3 separate regions of the Homo sapiens genome follow, and regions 1 and 3 are each linked to region 2. The links come from fine-mapping of genetic effects on gene expression. A gene starts in region 2. Each other region holds a variant in brackets. All regions are shown on one strand. Distances are from middle to middle.

Evidence for each region. PIP is the estimated chance that this variant, and not a neighbour inherited with it, causes the effect. A credible set is the group of variants that fine-mapping cannot tell apart.
Region 1: its variant is the best candidate, but not a certain one, in a credible set for the expression of KIF2C in whole blood (INTERVAL, PIP 0.81).
Region 3: its variant is the best candidate, but not a certain one, in a credible set for the expression of KIF2C in thyroid (GTEx, PIP 0.54).

Annotation. Positions count from the first base shown.
Region 1 is chr1:44,770,213-44,774,458 of GRCh38, reverse strand. No RefSeq gene overlaps it. Among named protein-coding and RNA genes, the nearest start is that of RPS8, 3.2 kb to the left of the region's middle. The variant T/C (reference allele first, on the strand shown) is at 1,790.
Region 2 is chr1:44,737,800-44,742,045 of GRCh38, reverse strand. KIF2C (kinesin family member 2C) reads right to left here and starts at 2,209. Exons shown (of 21, transcript NM_006845.4): 1 at 2,044-2,209; 2 at 1,039-1,133. The coding sequence starts at 2,113. RefSeq lists an enhancer at 2,389-2,558.
Region 3 is chr1:44,792,233-44,796,478 of GRCh38, reverse strand. It overlaps a transcript of BEST4 not described here. Among named protein-coding and RNA genes, the nearest start is that of PLK3, 6.0 kb to the left of the region's middle. RefSeq lists enhancers at 2,735-3,424, 4,117-4,246. The variant C/T (reference allele first, on the strand shown) is at 1,885.

The DNA.
Region 1 (4,246 bases), 32 kb before region 2:
ACTTGAACCGGGAGGTGGAGGTTCCAGTGAGCCGAGATGGCACCAATGCACTCACTCCAGCCTGGGTGATGGAGTAAAACTCTGTCTCAAAAAAATAAAATACACAAGTTATTATTGATTATAGTCACCCTGTTTTGCTATCAAATAGTAGGTCTTATTTATGATGATATTTTATTTTTGTACCCATTAGCCATCCCCACCATCCCCACTTCCCCCTACCCTCCCACTACCCTTTCTAGCCTCTGGTAACCATCCTTCTACTCTCTAGGACCATGAGTTCAATTGTTTTGATTTTTAGATCCCACAAATAAGTGAGAACATGCGATTCTCTTTGCATAAGTGTGTTTTTCTGTGCCCAGCTTATTTCACTTAACATAATGACCTTCAGTTCTACCCATGATGTTGCAAATGACGGGATCTCATTCTTTTTTATGGCTGAATAGTAATCCATTGTACATATGTACCACATTTTATCCATTCATCTTTTTTTTTCTTTTGAGACGGAGTCTTGCTCTGTCACCCAGGCTGCAGTGCAGTGGCATGATCTCAGCTCACTGCAACCTCTGCCTCCCAGGTTCAAGCAATTCTCCTGCCTCAGCCTCCTGAGTAGTTGGGATTACAGGCATGCGCCACCATGCTTGGCTAATTTTTGTATTTTTAGTAGAGATGGGGTTTCACCATGTTGGCCAGGCTGGTCTCGAACTCTTGACCTCAGGTGATCTGCCCACCTCAGCCTCCCAAAGTGCTAGGATTACAGGCGTGAGCAACCACACCTGGCGCCATTCGTCTTTTTTAACTTTAATTTTAATTTTTTTTGAGACAGTCTCGCTCTGTTGCCCAGGCTGGAGTGCAGTGGTGCGATGTTGGCTCGCTGCAACCTTCATCTCCTGGGTTCAAGCAATTCTCCTGCCTCAGCTTGCCAAGTAGCTAGGGTTACAGGCATGGGCCACCATGCCAGCAAATTTTTGTATTTGTAGTACAGATGGGGTTTCACCATGTTGGCCAGGCTGGTCTTGAACTCCTGACCTCAAGTGATCTGCCCGCCTACGCCTCCCAAAGTGCTGGGATTACAGGAGTGAGCCACCGCGCCCAACCTGATTTCCTTTCTTTTGAGTATATACCCAGCAGTGCAGGAACCTCCAAACTGTTCTCCATGGTGGTTGTACTAATTTACATTCCCAACAACAGTGTACGAGCGTTCCCTTCTCTCCACATCCTCGCCAGCATTTGTGATTGCCTGTGTTTTAGAAATAAGCCATTTGAACTGGGGTGAGATGATATGGTAGTTTTGATTTGCATTTCTCTGATGATCAGTGATGTTGAGCACCTTACATATGCCTGTTTGCCATCTGTATGTCTTCTTTTGAGAAATGTCTATTCAAATCTTTTGCCCATTTTTTGATCAGATTATTAGTTTTTTCCTGCTTAGAGCTGAGCTCCTTAAATATTCTGGTTGTTAATCCCTTGCCAGATGGGTAGTTTGCAAATATTTTCTCCCATTCTGTGGGTTGTCTCTTTACTTTGTTGATTGTATCCTTTGGTGTGCAGAAGCTTTTTAACTTGATGTGATCCCATTTGTCCATTTTTTGCTTTGGTTGCCTGTGCTTATGGGGTATTGTTCAAGGAATTTTTGCCCAGACCAATATCCTGGAGATTTCCCCCAGTGTTTTCTTGTAGTAGTTTCATAGTTTCATAGTTTGAGGTCTTAGATTTAAGTCTTTAATCCATTTTGATTTGATTTTTGTGCAGTGCTGTACATGTTCAGAGAAACTTCCCTAGCAACAAACTA[T/C]AGAAATGATCCCTAAAGTATAGTGTTTAACATTTCTTATAAAGAATATGTAGGAGGCCGGGGTGGTGGCTCACGCCTGTAATGCCAGCATGTCGGGAGGCTGAGGCAAGTGTATCACGAGGTCAAGAGATCAAGACCATCCTGGCCAACATGTTGAAACCCCGTCTCTATTAAAAATACAAAAATTAGGCCGGGCGCGGTGGCTCACGCCTGTAATCCCAGCACTTTGGGAGGCTGAGGCGGGCAGATCACGAGGTCAGGAGATCAAGACCATCCTGGCTAACACGGTGAAACCCCATCTCTACTAAAAATACAAAAAATTAGCCAGGCGTGGTGGCGGACACCTGTAGTCCCAGCTACTCGGGAGGCTGAGGCAGGAGAATGGCGTGAACCCAGGAGGCGGAGCTTGCAGTGAGCCAAGATAGCGCCACTGCACTCCAGCCTGGGCGACAGAGAGAGACTCCGTCTCAAAAAAAAAAAAAAAACAAACCAAAAATTAGCTGGGTGTGGTGGTGCGCACCTTAGTCCCAGCTACTTGGGAGGCAGGAGAATCGCTTGAACCCGGGAGGCGGAGGTTGCAGTGAGCCAAGACCACGCCGTCACACTCCAGCCTGGCGACAGAGCGAGACTCCATCTCAAAAAAAAAAATATGTAGGAGCCAGGCATGGTGGTATGTGCCTGTAGTCCTAGCTGCCCGGGAGGTTGAGGCTGTAGGATTGCTTGAGCCTGCAATTCAGGGTCACAGTGAGCTATGATCATGCCACTGCACTCCAGCCTGGGCAACAGAGCAAGACCCTGTCTCAAAAAAAAAAAAAAAAGAAAAGAAAAAAGAAAATAATTGACCTAAGCAGCCTCTCCAGCTGCCTATTAAAAAAAAAAAAAAAGAAAGAAAAAAATACAAGAAAAAACATAGGTCCAAGGCTTTAGGAATATCTACATTTCGGCTGGGTGCGGTGGCTCACGACTGTAATCTCAGCACTTTGGGAGGCCAAAATGGGCAGATCACCTGCGGTCAGGAGTTTGAGACCAGTCTGACTAACACGGCAAAACCCCGTCTCTACTAAAAATAACAAAATTAACCAGGCGTGGTGGCACACGCCTGTAATCCCAGCAACTCAGGAGGCTGAGGCAGGAGAATCGCTTGAACCCAGGAGGCAGAGGTTGCAGTGAGCTGAGATCGCACCATTGCACTCCAGCCTGGGCAACAAGAGCGAAACTCCATACCCACCCCGCAAAAAAACAAAGGAATGTTGTCATTTCAAGGCCAGATAGAGAAAGATAGCTGGCAAAGGACACAGAAAGAGAAATTAGAGTGACTAGAGGAAAGCCAACACAGGGTGCTGCCGTAGCTTAATGCTGCTGTGAATGCTAGTTAAAATGAGACTAAAAAGTGATTATTAGGCCAGTGCGGTGGCTCACGCCTGTAATCCAGCACTTGGGGATGCCAAGGGGGTGGATCACCTGAGGTTAGAAGTTCGAGACCAGCCTGGCCAACATGGCGAAACCCCATCTCTACTAAAAATACAAAAATTACCTGGGTGCAGTGGTGGACACCTATAGTCCCAGCTACTCTGGAGGCTGAGGCAGGAGAATCGCTTGAACCTGGGGGGCAGAGGTTGCAGTGAGCCGAGATCACTCCACTGCACTCTAGCCTGGACGACAGGAGCAAAACTCCGTCTCAAAGAAAAAAAAAAAGGTGATTATTGGATTTAGTAACCCGAAAGTCCTTGGTGATATTGGCGAGAGCAGTTTCTGTACAGTACAGTGGGAAAAAACTTGAAATAGAATGGGAAGTTAAAAAATCCAATGTATGTAGACAATTATTTTGAGAGGTATGACTTTAAAGGGGAAAGAGAGAATTAGGTTGTTGGCTGGAAAGGAATGTAGAGCAGAAGGGTAGTGTTTTCTTTTTTTTTTTTTGAGACGGAGTCTCACTCTGTTGCCCAGGCTGCAGTGGTGCGATCTTGCCTCACTGCAAGCTCTGCCTCCCGGGTTCATGCCGTTCTCCTGCCTCAGCCTCCTGAGTAGCTGGGACTACAGGTGCCCAAAACCACGCCTGGCTAATTTTTTGTATTTTTAGTAGAGATGGGGTTTCACCGTGTTAGCCAAGATGGTCTCGATCTCCTGACCTCATGATCAGCCTGCCTCGGCCTCCCAAAGTGCTGGGATTTCAGGCTTGAGCCACCACGCCCGGCCTTTTTTTTTTTTTAATTTTAGACACAGGGTCTCATTATACTGCTCAGGCCACAGTTCTGAGTCTGCTTTCTAAAGCAGCAACACTCTCTCATCTTTCTCTACCCACTTACTACCTATCATTTGTTTACATGCACATTATCTGTCTTCTCCACTGAAATACTATGTGCATAAGGGTAGAAACTTAGTCTTATTCACTGCCATATTTCTAACACCTATACATAGAATAATGCTTGCTATTTAATAAGTACTCAATAATTTTAT
Region 2 (4,246 bases):
CCAATGCATCTGGAAGGGGACCATTCTTTTTTTTTTTTTTTTTTTTTTTGAGACAAGTCCTCATTCTGTTGCCCAGGAGGCTGGAGAGCAGTGGTGCAATTTCAGCTCACTGAAACCTGTGCTTTCCCAGACTCCAGCAATTCTCCAGCCTCAGCCTCCAGAGCAGCTGGGACCACAGGCATGCACCACCATGCCCGGCTAATGTTTTTTGTATTTTTTGTAGAAATGAGGTTTTGTCATGTTGCCCAGCCTGGTCTTGAACTGCTGAGCTCAAAGCGATCTGCCCACCTCGGCCTCCCAAAGTGCTGGGATTATACATGTGAGCCACTGTGCCCAGCCAAGAAGACCATTTTTATTTTTTGAGGAAAGGTCTCACTCTGTCGCCCAGGCCAGAGTGCAGTGGCTCGATCATGGTTCAGTGCAGCCTCAACCTCCCAGGCTAAATCAATCCTCCCACCTCAGCTTCCCGAGTAGCTGGAACCACAGGCGTGAGCCACCACACCCTGATAATTTTTAATTTTTTTGTAGAGACAAGGTCTCAACATTTTTCCCAGGCTGGTCTCGAACTCCTGAGCTCAAGCAATCCTCCAGACCAGGCCTCTCAAAGTGTCGGGATTAGAGGCAAGAGCCACCGCACCCAGCCAATTTTTTTTTTTTTTTTTTTTTGAGACAGATTCTCACTGTCACCCAGGCTGGAGTGCAGCGGCACAGTTTCGGCTCACTGCAACCTCCGCCTCCCAGGTTCAAGCAGTTCTCCTGCCTCAGGCTCCCAAGTAGTTGGGATTACAGGCATGCACTACCACGACTGGCTAATTTTTGTATTTTCAGTAGAGACAGGTTTCGCCATGTTGGCCAGGATGGTCTCGAACTCCTGACATCAGGTGATCTGCCCGTCTCAGCCTCCCAAAGTTCTGGGATTACAGGCGTGAGTGAGAAGAGCACAGCATCAGAAACTAGGCTCTCACAGATTCCACTTCTGCACAGATCCTTTATGTAGGAAGACATTAAATGTGGTAGAGGAATTCTCATAGAACCTACCTCTTTGCCCTTTGTGGCACCTCCTTCTGCCCATTCCACTGAAACACAGGATTTCTCCAAGTTCACAGTCCTTACATTGGCACTGTGAATTAAACCTATAAAGTATGAAAAAACCAGAGTTACCCATCTCTTTCCTGAGAGCTTCACTTTTAGGATTCCACAGAGATTCCCAAAGTGGAGTTAACCTGAAGGAACAGGCAGCTACCTTAAAAAAAAAAAAAAAAAAAACTAAGAGAAACAAATAAATCTCCTGGGCTTCACCTTTAGAATATCCACAGTGAGGTGGGCTGGGGACAGGTTTTTAAACTGAGCTGCATGGGATAAGGATTCACCCCTACTCAAGAGAGCCTACAAAAAAAGAGAGATAGAGCCTACAAAAGAGAACATACAAAAGGTATGTTTGAGCACAGGATTCCCCACAACCCTTAGATGAACTTTTCCTCAACATAGCATTGAGGATCTGGCCCTTTTGGGGTTTTCCTAACTCATTTCTGGCGGTCATATCTGTCCATTTCCCTAATGACACGGGTATCAGACCTGCCAGAACTGCGGTACCTGCTTAAGCAAAAGAGAGAACGACTACAAGCTCCTCAAGCGCAGGGTTCTTGTCTGTCCCGTTTACCTGACATACCGCAACTGCGCAATATTTATTCGAGAGTAAAGGGGCCAGGAGACCGAGGTCCCCATAAGAGCAGGGCATTTTCAGGGGAGAATTTTGGAAGGGAAGTGAATTTAGAAGTCCCAACTTCCCTGGGAGGTCTACCAGCCTTGGAGAAGGTCCGCCCACTCCCAGAGGACTGCGAAAGGGACCACGTACAGCGCAGGGACTCTCACCCCTGTGTAGGCAAGAATGACTGCCAGTGCAGAGACCCGGAGTGAGTGCGTGTGAAAAGGAGGGAGGGAGAGAAAGAGAGTGAAAGCCCATCTGTGTGTCCGGGGACGGGCAGTAATTTCAGTCGTCTCACCGCTCACGAGTCCCCTTGACCTAGGGACCCCGCTCCTCACCATTACTGCGTTGGATCTTGATAGCGAGACCGGGAAACAGGCGGGCCTGAAGCGACGAGTCCATGGCCATTCGGAGAGTCAGCAAGGAAGAGAAACGCGCAATACCAAGAAACCTCAATTTCGCTAACCCTACGAAGTCTTAACGCCGCGTAAACCGCCGCAGTTTAAATCCCGCGCGCAAGCGTCCTTAAAACGTCATTCCGCTGTCCCCGCCCTCGCTTCCGCCAGTCAGCGGCGCCCTGCGGAGCCTTGGGGGAGACGCAGTTCCCAACCATCTTCCTACGCTTGGCACCGCCCATGCGTCTGGCCACACCCCCGAGCGCTGTGCCTTCTGGGAACTTCGCCGCTACGTGGGGTCTGGGGCTCCCATTTCTGGTATTGTCCTCGGTCACCTTGTACTGCGGGGTTCCCGAAAACTGGGAAACTTCAGTATGTATTTGACAATGAGGGCTCTGGGATCCTACAGACATGGGTTCGAATCGTAGCTTCTTCAATTGCAAGTTCAGTGACCTCGAGCAAGTTGGAGACTTGGCCGGGCGCGGTGGCTCACTCCTGTTAATCCCAACACTTAGGAAGGGAGAGGTGGGAGTGATCGCTCGAGATCAGAAGTTCGAGACCAGACAGGGCAACATAGCCAAGACCCTGTTCTCAAAGCAAAACAAAACCACAGATTAGAAACTTGACTTAGTTTTTCTTATTAAATAGTGCAGAAGCATGTTGCCTCATTCAAGGAGTTATGTATAAATTTCCAGAAAGACACTGATTCACCAGATATTTATTGAGTGAAGTCTACCACCTGCTAGGCATGGTACCAGGAAATGGAGATAATGAACTAGACACATAGTTCCTGTCCTCCTTTTTTTTTTTTTCCATTTAACCCTTAGTGGACACAGCACATGTTTCAGAGAGCACGGGGTTGGGGGTAAGGTTATAGATTAACAGCATCCCAAGGCAAAAGAATTTTTCTTAGTACAGAACAAAATGGAGTCTCCTATGTCTACTTCTTTCTACACAGACACAGTAACAATCTGATCTCTCTTTCTTTTCCCCACATTTCCCCCTTTTCTATTCGACAAAACCGCCATCGTCATCATGGCCCGTTCTCAATGAGCTATTGGGTACACCTCCCAGATGGGGTGGCGGCGGGGCAGAGGGGCTCCTCACTTCCCAAATGGGGCAGCCGGGCAGAGGCGCCCCCCCCCCCCACCTCCCAGACAGGGCGGCGGCTGGGAGGGGGCTGCCCCCCACCTCCCAGACGGGGCGGCTGGCCGGTCGGGGGCTTTCCCCCCACCTCCTGGACGGGGCGGCTGCCGGGAGGAGACGCTCCTCATCTCCCGGACGGGGCGGCTGCCGGGCAGAGTGGCTCCTCACTTCTCAGACGGGGCGGCCAGTCAGAGACGATCCTCACCTCCCAGACAGGGTGGCGGCGGGGCAGAGACACTCCTCAGTTCCCAGACGGGGTCGCGGCGGGGCAGAGGCGCTCCCCACATCCCAGACGATGGGCGGCCGGGAAGAGACGCTCCTCACTTCCTAGACCGGGTGGCGGCCGAGCAGAGGCTGCAATCTCGGCACTTTGGGAGGCCAAGGCAGGCGGCTGGGAGGTGGAGGTTGTAGCGAGCCGAGATCACGCCACCGCACTCCAGCCTGGGCAACATTGAGCACTGAGTGAGCGAGACTCCGTCTGCAATCCCGGCACCTCGGGAGGCCAGGGCTGGCAGATCACTCGCGGTCAGGAGCTGGAGACCAGCCCGGCCAGCACGGTGAAACCCCATCTCCACCAAAAAATACGAAAACCAGTCAGGTGCGGCGGCGCGCGCCTGCAATCCCAGGCACTCGGCAGGCTGAGGCAGGAGAATCAGGCAGGGAGGCTGCAGTGAGTCGAGATGGCGGCAGTACAGTTCAGCCTCGGCTTGGCATCAGAGGGAGACCGGGGAGAGGGGGAGGGGGAAAGGGAGAGGTTTTTTTTTTTTTTAATTAGAGACAGTGTCTTGCTATGTTGCCCAGGCTGGTCTTGAACTCCTGGGCTCAAAGATCCTCCCTCCTTAACCTCCCAAAGTGCTAGGATTACATGTGTGAACCACCAAGCCCGGCCTCCTGTTCTTGACGATCTGCCTGCCTCAGCCTCCCAAAATGCTGGTATTACAGGCATGAACCACTGTGCCTGGCCAGGAAAGGTCTTGTTTGAAGAACTGATGACTGGAAG
Region 3 (4,246 bases), 54 kb before region 2:
TTATATATCTTTATATATTTATATATCTTTATATATTTATATATCTTTATATATTTATATATTTATATATCTTTATATCTTTATATATCTTTATATATGTTTATTTATATATATTTATATATGTTTATATATTTATATTTATATATTTATATATATTTATATATTTATATTTATATATTTATATATATTTATATATATTTATATATTTTTATATATTTATATATTTATATATATTTATACATTTATATATTTATATATATTTATATATATATTTATATATTTATATATATTTTTTATATTTATATTTATATATTTATATATATATTTATATTTATATATTGTTATATATTTTTATATATATTTATATTTATATATTGTTATATATTTTTATATATTTATATATTGTTATATATTTATATATTTATATATTGTTATATATTTTTATATATATTTATACATTTATATATTTATATATATTTATATATTTATATATATTTTTTATATTTATATTTATATATTTATATATATTTATATTTATATATTGTTATATATTTTTATATATATTTATATTTATATATTGTTATATATTTTTATATATATTTATATATTGTTATATATTTTTATATATTTATATATTTATATATTTATATATATTTATATATATATTTATATATATTTATATATTTATATATATTTATATATATTTATATATATTTATATATATTTATATATTTATATATATTTATATATATTTATATATTTATATTTATATATTTATATATTTATATATATTTATATATATTTATATATTTATATATTTATATATATTTATATATATTTATATATTTATATATATTTATATATATTTATATATTTATATATATTTATATATTTATATATATTTTTATATATTTTTATATATTTATATTTATATATATTTATATATTTATATATATTTTTTATATATTTATATATTCATATATATTCATAAATACTTATATTTATTTATTTATATATGTATATATGTATATATTTATATATTTATATATATTTATATATTTATATATATTTTTTATATATTTATATATTCATATATATTCATAAATACTTATATTTATTTATATATTTATATATTTATATATATTTATATATTTATATATTTATATATATTTTTATATATTTATATATTTATATATATTTTTATATATTTATATATATTTATATATATTTATATATATTTATATATTTATATATATTTTTATATATTTATATATATTTATATATATTTATGTATATATTTATATATTTGTATATTTTTATATATTTATATATTTATATATTTTTATATATTTATATATATTTATATATATTTTTATGTTTTTATATATTTATATATATTTATATATATTTATATATTTTTATATATTTATATATATTTATATATATTTATATATTTATATATATTTATATATTTATATATATTTATATATTTATATATATTTATATATTTATATATATTTATATATATTTATATATGAATTTTGGAAGGGGGCACAGTTCTGCCCATAATGGCCTCTTAATTATATCACCAAGTCTAGCAAGATCTAACACACTGTGTTTTTTTGTTTTTTTGTTTTTGACAGAAGGTTTCACTCTGTGGCCCAGGCTGGAGTGCAGTGGCATAATCATGGCTCCCTGAAGCCTCGACCTCCCTGGCTCAGGCAATCCCCCCAACTCAGCCTCCCAAGTAGCTGGGACTACAGCTGGTGCATACCACCACACCCAGCTTTTTTTTTTTTTTTTTTTTTTGAGACAGAGTCTCGCTCTGTCACCCAGGCTGGAGTGTAGTGATGCAGTGACAGGATGGCAGATCACTGCAACCTC[C/T]GCCTCCCAGGTTCAAGGGATTCTCCTGCCTCAGCCTCCCGAGTAGCTGGGATTACAGGCACGCACCACCATACCCAGCTAATTTTTTTTTTTTTTTGAGACGGAGTCTCACTCTTTCGCCCAGGCTGGAGTGCAGTGGTGCCATCTCGGCTCACTGCAAGCTCCGCCTCCCAGGTTCACGCCATTCTCCTGCCTCAGCCTCCTGAGTAGCTGGGACTACAAGCGCCCACCACCGCGCCCGGCTAATTTTTTGTATTTTTAGTTGAGACGGGGTTTCACTGTGGTCTCGATCTCCTGACCTCATGATCCACCCGCCTCGGCCTCCCAAAGTGCTGGGATTACAGGCGTCAGCCACCGCGCCCGGCCTTTTTTTTTTTTTTTTTTTTTTTAAGGCAGAGTCTGGCACTGTTGCCCAGGCTGGAGTGCAGTGACACAATCTCAGCTCACTGCAACCTCCGCCTCCCGGGTTCAAGAGATTCTTGTGCCTCAGCCTCCTGAGTAGCTGGGGTTACAGGCCCCCGCCACCACGCCTGGCTAATTTTTGTATTTTTAGTAGAGATGGGTTTCACCATGTTGGTCAGGCTGGTCTTAAACTACTGACCTCAAGGGATCCGCCTGCCTCGGCTTCCCAATGTGCTGGGATTACAGGCATGAGCCACTGAGCCAGGCCAGTTGTTCATTTTTTCAACAAACGTTTTCTTGAGCAGCCTCTATGTGTCAGGTCCTGTGCTGCACCCTGGCGTGACCTGTCGGTAGGACAAGGACACTGGACTGTAATTAGTGCTAAGTGGTGAAGACAGACAGGGTATAGAGGTGGCCTATGGGAGCCCAGAGGTGGGATCACACCCAGTTTGGGGAATGTACGTAGGCTGAGATTTCTAAGTTGAAACCTGAGAGCTGAGGAGGAGTTAGCCAGGAACAGTAATGGACAGGAGGAGAAAGTATTCCATAAGAGGAACCCTGTGCTCCTTAAGGCATGGAGTGAGAGCTGTTGGTCCTTGAAAAAGCTGAAAGTTCAGAGTAGCTGGAGGAAAGGGGAAGGGTGACTGGAACAGTCCAGGGGCCAGAACTCCAAAGGCTTTGCAATGTGTGTGGAGGAGTGAAGGTCTACTTGCCCCTTCCCCAATTTGCCAAGTTCCCAAGCTGACCTAAGTTTTGAATTTGGTGAGTTCAGGTGAAGTCTGACAATATAGCCAGGGAGTGGGTCTGGAAAGTTAGTGGGAAGGAGGGGCCAGGACAGGCTCCTTGCAAGAGAAAGCTGATTTGCCCTCCTGGCCTGGTTCCCTAGAGCCTCCTCCGCAAAGCTGAGGAGCTCCTGCCAAGCACGTAGGTGCTGAGCCTAAGACTGGGTTCCCTTCTCTTCCCAGGCTGGGATTTAAGGTTGAGCTCAGGCTGTCTGATCCATGGCCATGTTACCTCTCTAATCTCTGCCACACAGGACCCTAGCCAGGGGCCACTACTCAGGCACAAAATGAAATCCCATCTGGCCTTTCTTGCTGTTGTCTTGTGGCTTCCTCAACTGGCTGGGTGGGCCCACACCCAGGCTGGGGCTGTGAGCTTATTATCTTGTCTTCCTCTTCTGTCTTTTGTTGTTGTTTGTTTGTTTGTTTGTTTGTTTGTTTAGATGGCGTCTTGCTCTGTCACCCAGGCTGGAGTGCAGGTGGTGCAATCACAGCTCACTACAGCCTCGACTTCCTGGCTCAAGCGATCCTCCAACCTCAGCCTCCAAGTAGCTGGGACTAGAGGCATGCGCCACCACACCCGGCTAGTTTTTTGTATTTTTTGTAGAGATGGGGTTTTGCCATGTTGTCCAGGCTGGTCTCGAATTCCTGGACACCGTGCTTGGGCCAGAATCTCTTGAGTGTCAGGTCACAGAGGCCAACGGAGGAGGGTCAAGAACAAGAGATGCCAGGTAAGGTTAGGACTTGGGAAGGGCTATTGGCTTCAGCAATAAGGAGATGGCAGGTGTCCTTGGTGGGTGCAGAGGTGGAAGGGATAAAGCCAACCTGAAATAAGAGATGTGCTGATAGCCACGGTAGCACTTCCCACTCACCTGGTGCTATTGTGAGCACTTTATACTATTAACTCACCTAATATGCGCAACGACTCCATGTGATAGGCATTATCATCCCCGTGTTCCCATGGGGAATTTTTTTTTTTTTTTTTTTGAGATGGAGTCTTGCTCTGTTGCCCAGGCTGGAGTGCAATGGCATGATTGGGGCTCACTGTAACCTCCACCTCCCAGGTTCAAGCGATTCTCCCACCTCAACCTTCTGAGTAGCTGGGATTACTGGCTCCTGCCACCAAGCCCGGCTAATTTTTGTATTTTTAGTAGTGACAGGATTTTGCCATGTTGGTCAGG